Homo sapiens: one gene and its partners. The gene in region 1 interacts genetically with each later gene. Each region holds a gene or a part of one and is shown on either strand. Other genes may lie near its edges. The genes, in order: BRAF, FGFR2 and HDAC2.

Region 1 (3,657 bases):
TGATAAAAAAGTTTTATAGTTTCCTACTTTTAAGCAAAATTCCATAGGGCCTGGTAATTGTAGTTTCAACATTACTTGCAGTTTCAGTTAGTAAATAAATATTAAGCCTAGTAAGTATAATTTAATATTGTCAAATAATTTGGAAAATACCATGGGTACTTAATTGATTTTACCAAATTTCCATGGAACAAACAAGGTTGGCTATTTTTTGGATTGATATTTTGAAATACTAGTACAGGAATATCATTGTTAGTTGAATTTTTAGCCTTAGAAAACAAATGGAGTTTAGATAGCTAAAGTATAATTTATTTGTGATTTAATAATGGTATGGAGTTAGGGCTATGATAATTAGTGAAAACACCCAAGAATGTTTTATACTTTTAAATTTTAAAAATTGAAATGACACTTGGAGTAACAATTGCCTTTTAGGTGATGTGGCAGTGAAAATGTTGAATGTGACAGCACCTACACCTCAGCAGTTACAAGCCTTCAAAAATGAAGTAGGAGTACTCAGGTGAGCTTGTGTGAATTACTCTTTTCCAGAGAAAGAAGTTATTTTTATTAGCTCCTGGTTCCCAGTGGTAGCAACTATTAGCTTTACAGATTTACTCAAAATGAATAAATTTGTAGAAACAGAGTATGTCTGAGTATATTTTTGTCTTTAACCACATTCTTTTAAGTAGTATGCAATGTTATATGGTATGGCTGATAGAATACTTAGTCCTAGACTGAATTAATGGAAGTATAGTATTCTGATAATATAAAGTAATAGTTCTACTTATGAAAAGAATACTCTCCAGTTTTAAGCTTATCAGAATACATTTAGAGGTGGTATTTAGTCCTGGGCTCTGGAATTTTAGAAACATTGACAAACTAGGATATGCCTAGTGAGGACCACCTAAATAGGGAAGATTCTAGAGGTGTAACGGGGGAAAATAATCAACAGAACTGAGGATATTTAGTTCACAGAAGGCTGTTATGTTCAAGAGAGTGCACAGTTATTCCAGAGTGCGGAAAAAAAAGTTATTCCAGAGAGCAGACCAGGGAAGCAAGCCAGAGGTGAAAGTTGTAAGAAAATGATTTTGTCTCAACACTTGGAAACTTTATAATACCAGAACCACTTAAATAAAGATATGAGAGTCAGCTACAACTGAGTGATGAACTTCCCATAGTTGAAGGTATTTAAGCAACCTCTAGTTGCCTGTCAGATATATTTAAAAAGATATCTCTGCATAAAGTAGGAGGTTAGACTTGGCAATTGCCAGTCTCTTCTAAATGTATCCTTTTGTTGCCTTTTTTAAAAAAAAAAAAGCTTTTTCTGACAACATTTTACCGACAGACTACTTTGGTTCTCTTTTGTAAGAATTGCTAAAGTTTGTCGACATTTAATGTTTACTGTCACATTTCTTTGTACAGGAAAACACGACATGTGAATATCCTACTCTTCATGGGCTATTCCACAAAGCCACAACTGGCTATTGTTACCCAGTGGTGTGAGGGCTCCAGCTTGTATCACCATCTCCATATCATTGAGACCAAATTTGAGATGATCAAACTTATAGATATTGCACGACAGACTGCACAGGGCATGGAGTAAGTTCCATTCGTTAAATGTCTTGTAAATTATTTTTGAAGACCATTGAGGATGTTTTAAAGGTTTTGGCTGCTATTCTTTTGGATTGCATTTTAAATTACTGTCCAGGAACATAAGGATGCTAACTAATGGCTGGTAAATAATATGATACTAAAAAATAAATGTCTCTGTCTAGTGCAGCCTTCAGAACATATATCAAGTATTTGATAATAAATACATGACTGCAAACTTAGGCTTAGCACTCAGTGATTGAGCTAAGCAAGAGAGGTTCAGAAGATAGAAACAGCAAAAACCTGCTAAAAAGTTGTTAGCAGTTGTGCAAGTAAACAGAATGGTTGTTAGTTACTTTTTCAAATCAGTTTCTCTGAGTGCCCGTATTTTTGGTTGCAAAATGGTCAGTTAATAAAGTTAAAGTGAAAAATCTGCATTCTGACCCTTTTTGAGGATTTCAGAGTGAGTTCCTATCTGTTGAATTTTGCTATGCAATTTAAGGAGTTATTTTATAAAGTTTACCATAAGCTAATATGGGGAACTGACTTTGAAGGATAAATTTTAAATTTTGCAACTCTTAAGTGCAAATGAATAGGTAAATTAAAAGGTAAAATTAAACAAATTTTGAAAGCACTTAGGTGAAAATTATAAACTCAGTAAAATATGAATTTGAAAGCTCTGTGAGAAGTTTAAAAATAGATATGATCTGAATTTTGTTTTTTACAAATTGCTTTCACTTACATAGATTATTATGTCATTTAATCTTTATAATGTTATGAAGGAGATCTTTTTTCTTTTTACAGATAAGGAAATTGAGGCTTTTAAGTTCCTTGTCTAAGGGCACACATTTAATAAGTGGCACCAAAGGTGTTTAACTCAGGATTTCTGACTCCCAATCCAGTATTCTTTCCCCATAACCACTATGCTACTTTTACATTACAAAATTAGAATAAAAGAGTAAAAGGGTATATATGTACTAACACCTACAACTCTAACTGAGTATTGCTCCTAGCAAGTAAGTATAGAGCCAAGACTCTAAACCAGATCTGGCTCTTAGATCTTCCAACTATACCACCTTCTCTTTCTCAAAACTAGGCAATATATCTATAATTTAGATTGTTTACAAGCCTATATTCGGCCAAAATACTTATTACAGCAAATTATTACCTTATTCAGTAACACCCCCACTTACCCCTAGACTTGAAACAATCTCAACGTTTCAGATAAGTTAGAATCTCTGAATCTGTTCGAATCTAAAGGCTTTTAAAGAATTAAAATCTTGGCCAGGCACAGTGGCTCACACTTGTAATCCCAGAACTATGGGAGGCCGAGGCAGGCGGATCACCTGAGGTCGGGAGTTCAAGACTAGCCTGACCAACATGGAGAAACCCCGTCTCTACTAAAAATACAAAATGAGCCAGGCACAAGCCTGTAATCCCAGCTACTTGGGAGGCTAAGGCAGAAGAATCACTTGAACCCGGGAGGCAGAGGTTGCAGTGGGCCAAGATCACACCATTGCACTCCAGCCTGGGCAACAAGAGCAAAATTCCGTCTCAAAAAAAAAAAAAAAGAATTAAAATCTTGTGAAGAGTAAACCATGGCAAAGATTGTGAACATTCAGTGAGAAACAAAGGCTTATTCTCTTCCCACACCACTGGTCTCTTTGCAATTTCTTCAGCAGGCCAAGCGTGTTCCTTCTTTAGGACCTTTATGTTTGTTATATTCTCTTTAGGATACACATGCCACAAATATCCTTGTGTCTCGGTTCATATGTCCCCTTTTAATAGAAATCCTTGCTCACCTTATATAACTAACATGTCCCCACGTCACTCTGTCACTCTCTATACCCATAGGCTTGATTTTCTTTATAACGCATAGCTCCATCTGACTTGTTTCTTGTCTTTTATCCCCACTAGAATGCAGGCTGTATGAGAGCAGGGGCTTTTTTTCATTATTTTATGCCTAATGCCTAGAATGGGACCTGGCATACTCAGTACATAACTGTTAAATGAAAATGATTACACACAACTGCATATTATTGATAGATTTACCTTTCAGAAGAAAGAGATGCC
Region 2 (3,657 bases), on another chromosome or scaffold:
CCCATTTCCACTGAATAGCCTGGCCATCAATAAGTTTCCAGAAGGACTGGGGAGAAACAAAGAATGGCCCCCAATGCTGGGGTCTGGGGTTATTTTGAGTTAAAGGGACTCGGAGCTACTGAATGTCTTCCACATTCAAGTCCTAGAACTCTTTCCTTGAGATATTCCACTTTACATTTCCAAAGACAGAGGAAATATGGTAGAGCCAATTTCCTAAAAGTTTTCGTAGAATTTCATAAGCACAGCATTGATCCATGATCCGGGTGGTCTGAGAGGGGATCCATTATCCAGGGCTCCAGTACAGGTGCAGGTACAACCATAAAGGCACTAATGAAGCCAGAGAGGACTGTCTGCATGTCCTCAAGTGACTCTCTGGAGGAATTAGGACAGAAAGAAAATTTACATTGTGATCAGATGGTATAGAAAAATTTCATAGAAAAACCTGAACATAGGAACATAAAATTTGGATGAAATCTGGTACTGCATGGACTGGAGGGCAGAGGAGTTAGATTCCAGTGGTTTTCTAATTTGGTTTCTGACTTCTGCCAGCCCCCAACCCATTCCTTTCTAAGATTCGATACTCTGGCTGGGCTCTGGCTGACTTCCAGCCTTCTCAGATGGAGCCAGGATTACATCTGTGTCTTTGCATTTTGTATCCAGGTTTCGGCTGAGTCCAGCTCCTCCATGAACTCCAACACCCCGCTGGTGAGGATAACAACACGCCTCTCTTCAACGGCAGACACCCCCATGCTGGCAGGGGTCTCCGAGTATGAACTTCCAGAGGACCCAAAATGGGAGTTTCCAAGAGATAAGTGAGTACTTCTCTTGGCCATGTCCCAGGATGGAGACTCAGCTATAAATGGGGATATTGGATTAACATTTTCTTTTTATGACCCTTAGCCACAAAGGTCTTGGTGTGATGATGTCAGCAGGAGTAAGATTGTATTTCTAAATAACCAACTCCTGGAAAAGAAAAAAATGGATTTAAAAAAAAAAATAACTCCTTGAAAGCAGAGCTACTTGCCCCTGGCTGGTCCCCAAAGAAGATGGCATCTGGTTATCATTTTTTAAGTGTCTGGGCAATTCAGACTCCGTCAAATGGAATAAAAGTAGAATTATCCAATTTATAAAACAGATCTGACATTCTAGCTTTTGGTTACTAGAACAAGACTGTTCTCTGTTCACTTCTGTGGAGAAATTAGATGCAGAATATAAATGGCCTTAAGGACCGCTACCCAGTGTTGCTGTTCTCATTGGTTATTAATGTCATATTGGGCTGAAAAGCTTCAAATATGGTACCTGACATCTAATTTCTGTGATCCATAATATTTTCCTTGTTGGATGATACAGAGGTGTGCCAATCAGATGTTTAGTCAAAATATGGCCACCTGGGTGGTGTTGGGGCTACGTATCTCTTGGTCTCGCTTGAACTCCACGTACTGGAGCTCCGTTGGGCTGCATTTGAATCCTGGCTTTGCCAGACAGTGGCTGGGCAACCTCGGGTGAGGCACCTGATTCTCTGAAATTCATTCTCATAAAATGAGGGTGGTGGTTCAGACCTCCCAGGACTGAGCAGAGTTCTTGGCTTGTGCGAGTTTTCCTTTCATTTCCCTTCACGTGGTGGTAACCTGGGAGCTCTGAACTGCAAACCTCAGCAGGATCATCGTGTGGGGCATGGAGTCAGTGGGCAGAATTTGAGCTCCTAGCCCTCGTCCTCTAGGCAGGGACCGACCCCTAGATCCTCCTTATGAAAGGAAGTGCAGTGGTCATTGTAGGGCTGTCCACTCACTTCTGGGGTACTTTTTGTCGTCACAGCTTGAGAGTACGGGAAGGTGGAAATGCTGACTACTTCTGCATCACATACACTGGAATAAGCTCTTGACTTGCTTATAAGCAGCTACCCTGTTTGCCTTGACATTTTCAGTAGCTCCTCAGATTATATACACTTCTCATGTGTACCTATACACATTTGGAAATGCAAAGATAAGCTCTTCCAGAGACTGATCTGATGAGCTCTATTTGGAAGGGAGAGGTAGCTTATGTGGCTGGCACTTCTGATTTTGATTCACGTGATGTCACATCAGTTTTGTTTCCCAAGTGCCAATTTAGAGATGTGTACCGTTAGCTAGGACTGAATAATTGTATGGATATTATTTGGTTAGAGTGTTAATGGAAGTAATTTCCAGTTGATTTGTATACTGTAGTGAAAAGACCACTCACTCATTCACTTATTCATTCACTCAAGGCATGTTAATTGGACATTTACTGGTGGGGCACCAGAGAAAACACAAAGAATGGTTTCTTTACCTGTAGGATGTGGAGAAATGGATGTTTCTTGTGAACTCCGCCAGCCCTAGTTTGTGTGTGATTATATACACAGATAGGTTCATGTGCACATTCCTATATATATAACTGAACTGGGGAGTTGTGATCATATTTTAAGAAATTGCAGCTTTCGGGTTTAGTCCATAGTTTTTGCCACCTGTGACACCACAGTCAACAGTGGAAGTCTGTATGTGCCCAACTGTTACCTCCCACCCGGGGTACCCTGAGTGTGGAAAATCTGAGTGCTAAACATTTCAAAACAGTGTTTAGCGCAAACGTAGGTGGAACAGATTTCCAATGAATGAAGGCTATTTAGAAGCAGTTTATTAGATCGGAGGCAGAAGTTATACAAAGAAAGGATTGTTATGCTTGTAGTAGCAAGGCGGTGGGACATAAATTAGCCATTTTTCCAATGCAAATATTTATTTTCTGCCAAGATGTTAAATTTAATTTTCGTTCTGGGTAGAAACAAAATGACCTCAGCATAGCACATGCTGCCCTTAGTCTTTATGCTGCACTTTTGCAAACTATTGTGTACTTACCTTAAATACTGTTTACTAATGGCAGCTCCATGCTTTGCTGTGTTATGCTTAAGTTAGAAAGAGCCGTATTCATAAGTATTCCAAAGACTTTTGCGTTTTGTTGGTTTCTGGAATGCACAAGGACAATATATGGCTATTCGTCCGATGTGCATAGACCTTGTAATCTTAGAAATTTAATTTGTGGTGTTCACTTTGGATTTTCTTCATTGTTAATTTTATGTAGTCATAAGGACTTTTAAACTTATGTCAAAAAAAAAGTCCCCAATTTTTTAGAATTTTCTTTTTAGTAAAAAATTAGAGATTCCTTGAAATGCTTTTAAGAGGCATATCCTGTAACTTGGCAAGGAATGTGACCATAAAATCCATTGGTATTTGAATAATAATTTTAAAGCCACCATTTTACAGGGACAAAAAAATAAGAACAGTCTTAACGTTTTTTCTTTGAGCCATTCTAAATTACAAATATTTAATTGGCTCAAGATCAAAAGCTCTTCTCTGGCACTTAGGAAAGCTGACCACCGCACTAGCAAGGATACCTTCCCTAAAGAAAATAAACCGAGAATACCAATGTGAAATTTAATAGCCGTTCCACCAGTAATTGACATTCTCTAAAACGTCACTAGGAAAATACTCAGGCGCGTGTGTACCCTAAGTCTCATTAGTTCCATATGATAAGCACTCCATGCTTTAGTAAGCCGCTGAAAGATTTTTATATTTAGTTCTGGAATTTCCCTCACTACACCCCATCACCAGATGCTATGTGCTAATCCCCTATTTACACATTTAGGCT
Region 3 (3,657 bases), on another chromosome or scaffold:
TCAAATTTTAAAATCATTAGGCATGTTACCCTTTACGTTTAAATGTGGTAACTAACTGCTTAGTGCATTTGTATGAGTATGCTGTAATGATTATAAAACCTGTGACTGTTTTTGTCAAAATTTATTAAAATATTCTGTGCAGTTCGAGCATCAGACAAGCGGATAGCTTGTGATGAAGAATTCTCAGATTCTGAGGATGAAGGAGAAGGAGGTCGAAGAAATGTGGCTGATCATAAGAAAGGAGCAAAGAAAGCTAGAATTGAAGAAGATAAGAAAGAAACAGAGGACAAAAAAACAGGTCAGATTTGTTTCTTGGTAATTGTGTTTTAATTGTAAATTTTAAAAATTGGGCTGCATTATAATGTTTATGCTATCGAGAAGTCAGTTGCACAGGTATCAGGAGGAAGTATGCTAGGTAGGTGACTCTTTTTTCTTACATATAAGTGGTACTTAGCTCTTAAAGCTTTTATATAAATGTTATTGTTCCTATTTGCTTTAGTAATACAGGAAACCTTATTTTCTTGATAACATAGGTTTAAAATAGTGAACATTGCATTGTGATATAGATTGGTTAAGAAAGAGGACAAAGTAATTATGAATCTATTGGTAGTGCATGGTCAGAACTGAACTTCTAAGGTAATTTTTAGCTACCTAAAGCTTATTTAATGGGAGAAAACACAAAGAAGAGTTACATATCCTTAGACCAGTTTTGCCATTTTGAAAAAGGTCAAATAATGGATTTTGTTCAGAAATTGAAGAAAACATTAAAAACTCTGAGGAAAGCTAGGAGGGGATTTGGGACCTGGGTTAGGGAGGAAAAAATACTTTGATACATTGCCTTACTTTAAAACGCTGTGTTAGCTTTAGGCAATTGAATTTGCTACCGGAATCTGTTACCTTTCATCTGACTTCCCAGAACACTTACACATGCCTCTGCCATTTTATTTAACACATCATATTATAGCACCTCACAGGATTTTGTCTCCCTACTAGACTGAGCTGCTCATGGCTAGGGAACACAGTATCTTAAATATTTGTATTCTCAGCACTTGATGCATTTCCTAATGCAAGTAATGGTGATGAGCACACGTTTTAGTTAACCTGTTAATTTTGATCCTGTAGTATGTGAAAAACTGATTTAGAGATAATGATCCAATTTTTCCTATGTCTATCAAATTGAAGTTATGTGAATAAGCCAGCTTTTTTTTTTTTTTTTAAACTAGAGAGTTAGTAATCTATAACATCTGACACATTTAGTTCTGTTCTTTTACTTGTGGATTCACTCCTCAATAGGCTACATACAGAAATTTATAATTTTAACTTCCCAATGTATTACAATGATGGCTTCAGTCTATATTTGTAACTGATTGACATCCAAAAATTCAAGCCATGACTGAATTAAGGACGACTTAACTTTAGCTGTAGGATTTTCCTAACTTTTTTTCTTTTCTTTCATTTTCACTATGTTTTCTTGTCTGTCTGTTTTTGGTGTTCTCATTTTTAAAAGCTTTATCTTTTCTGTGCTTAAAAAATAAACTCTCTATTTGGTGATGAGGCTCTTTCGATAGGGCCTTGCAGTTGTTAAAATTCTTCAGCCTACTGAAAAATGAAATACTACCACAGAAAGCTTTTTTTAAATCTATAGGTCAAAACCTAGAGTTAGGGCCACCTTTTCTCCCTCTGCACCCCAATCCAGTGACTATTCATAGCTTGTACTGCCATCGTTTAGGAAACACCCAACACAAAGCTTATTTAGACCGAATTCATTAATAATAAGATTGCATAACTTTTTATATTTTAAAAATAAAGTATATTTTGAAATAATATATATACATTTTATATTTCAAAATAGGTTTTAATCTTTTCCCAATCTTTATTTTTAGACGTTAAGGAAGAAGATAAATCCAAGGACAACAGTGGTGAAAAAACAGATACCAAAGGGTAAATGATGTTCCTTATCAAGTACTTTTTACATACTATAAAAATACTAAACATGTTTATTGGTGTGTGTTTGTGTACACACTTCAGAAATACTAGACTGAACCTTAGAACATCATTATGAGGTGCTCTGAATTTTAGTTTGTATTGGTACATAAGACAACATATGCCATCTTACCTATTGGTTTATCAGTATAACTATATCAGTCAGTTTGTATTCTTGTACGTAGTTTATCTGAGACCCTTTTTTGCTGTTATCTTTTATATATGCACTTAATGGTTTTCATGGTGTTCTTATTTCTGTGTACATGATTTTTTTAGTGTTGTGAGATAGGTAAATTTAAGAAACAATTTTAAGTAAAAACAGTTGAGGATTTTAGTGTCAGAAAGCATGTAAATGTTTGGGCACACATAATTTTGTGCCAGCCTTTACAGGATAACTTGGAATAGTTTATTAAATCACTAGAAAAATTAAGGCATTAATTACTCCAGAAACACTTAAGACATTATCAATTAATGTGTTTCTTAGCATGAGCCTACAGGACCTGATCAATATAATAGGTCAGTGCATTTAAACCAAGATTGTGCCATTTTTAATATTTCACATTGCCTCTTTTAACAGAACCAAATCAGAACAGCTCAGCAACCCCTGAATTTGACAGTCTCACCAATTTCAGAAAATCATTAAAAAGAAAATATTGAAAGGAAAATGTTTTCTTTTTGAAGACTTCTGGCTTCATTTTATACTACTTTGGCATGGACTGTATTTATTTTCAAATGGCTTTTTCGTTTTTGTTTTTCTTGGCAAGTTTTATTGTGAGTTTTTCTAATTATGAAGCAAAATTTCTTTTCTCCACCATGCTTTATGTGATAGTATTTAAAATTGATGTGAGTTATTATGTCAAAAAAACTGATCTATTAAAGAAGTAATTGGCCTTTCTGAGCTGATTTTTCCATCTTTTGTAATTATCTTTATTAAAAAATTGTACTTGGATTATCTTTTGTCTGTTTATTACTACAATATGAAGTCTTGTTTCAGTGGCTAATGACATCATTTCTGTAGACTTACAATACACTCTAGGTGAAAGATAATGATTACAGCTTGAAAGATAACTATTTGCTGTTTCTTTGGGAAGAGTATTTATAGTAATTATTACTTATCTTTGCAATAGAAATTCTACCACCTTGCCCTCTATAGCTTAGCCAGTTAGTATCAGTGAAGATTAACATCCCATTACAATTTATGAAATAATACAGACTCTGCAATTGAGATGTAGGAGTTCTTTGAGTTGACCCAAAGATTCTCAAAATTGAAATGGAAATTCTGAATTGAAAGAAGAAACTGACCAGAACTTGTATTGACCAGACTTGCCTATAGTATATTGCTGGTTTAAAATGGAACCTGCAGACAAAACCTGTTTCTTTTACTGCATTTACATGGCATCCAGGTTCCATTATTATTTACGTGACATCCAGGTTTCTAACTCAAGGAAATAAACACAACTGATTTATCATTCAGCAACTACTTATTGTGTGTCTGCCCATTTTAAGACTGTAGGAGTGTAACTGAATATAATGGAAAAATGCTTTCACTCAGAGCTTACACTCAGAGCTTACATTCTAGTAGCAGGAAGCAGACAAATGGGGGTAACTCCTGCTACTAAGATGTGCAAAGAAGACAAAACATTTTAGGAACTTGCCAAAATCAGTGAAATCTCC

Evidence for each region.
Region 2: changes in BRAF (region 1) and FGFR2 together harm fitness more than expected from each alone (negative genetic interaction), as found in Homo sapiens cells (one large-scale study listed by BioGRID).
Region 3: changes in BRAF (region 1) and HDAC2 together harm fitness more than expected from each alone (negative genetic interaction), as found in Homo sapiens cells (one large-scale study listed by BioGRID).

What each region holds. Positions count from the first base shown.
Region 1 is NC_000007.14:140,774,848-140,778,504, reverse strand, and holds part of BRAF (serine/threonine-protein kinase B-raf), read left to right. Parts: intron 1-429; coding exon 430-514; intron 515-1,416; coding exon 1,417-1,593; intron 1,594-3,657. UniProt on the Homo sapiens protein: Protein kinase involved in the transduction of mitogenic signals from the cell membrane to the nucleus. Phosphorylates MAP2K1, and thereby activates the MAP kinase signal transduction pathway. Phosphorylates PFKFB2.
Region 2 is NC_000010.11:121,500,945-121,504,601, reverse strand, and holds part of FGFR2 (fibroblast growth factor receptor 2 isoform 1 precursor), read left to right. Parts: intron 1-660; coding exon 661-812; intron 813-3,654; coding exon 3,655-3,657. UniProt on the Homo sapiens protein: Tyrosine-protein kinase that acts as a cell-surface receptor for fibroblast growth factors and plays an essential role in the regulation of cell proliferation, differentiation, migration and apoptosis, and in the regulation of embryonic development.
Region 3 is NC_000006.12:113,939,992-113,943,648, reverse strand, and holds part of HDAC2 (histone deacetylase 2), read left to right. Parts: intron 1-142; coding exon 143-298; intron 299-1,883; coding exon 1,884-1,941; intron 1,942-2,560; coding exon 2,561-2,591; 3' UTR 2,592-3,657. UniProt on the Homo sapiens protein: Histone deacetylase that catalyzes the deacetylation of lysine residues on the N-terminal part of the core histones (H2A, H2B, H3 and H4).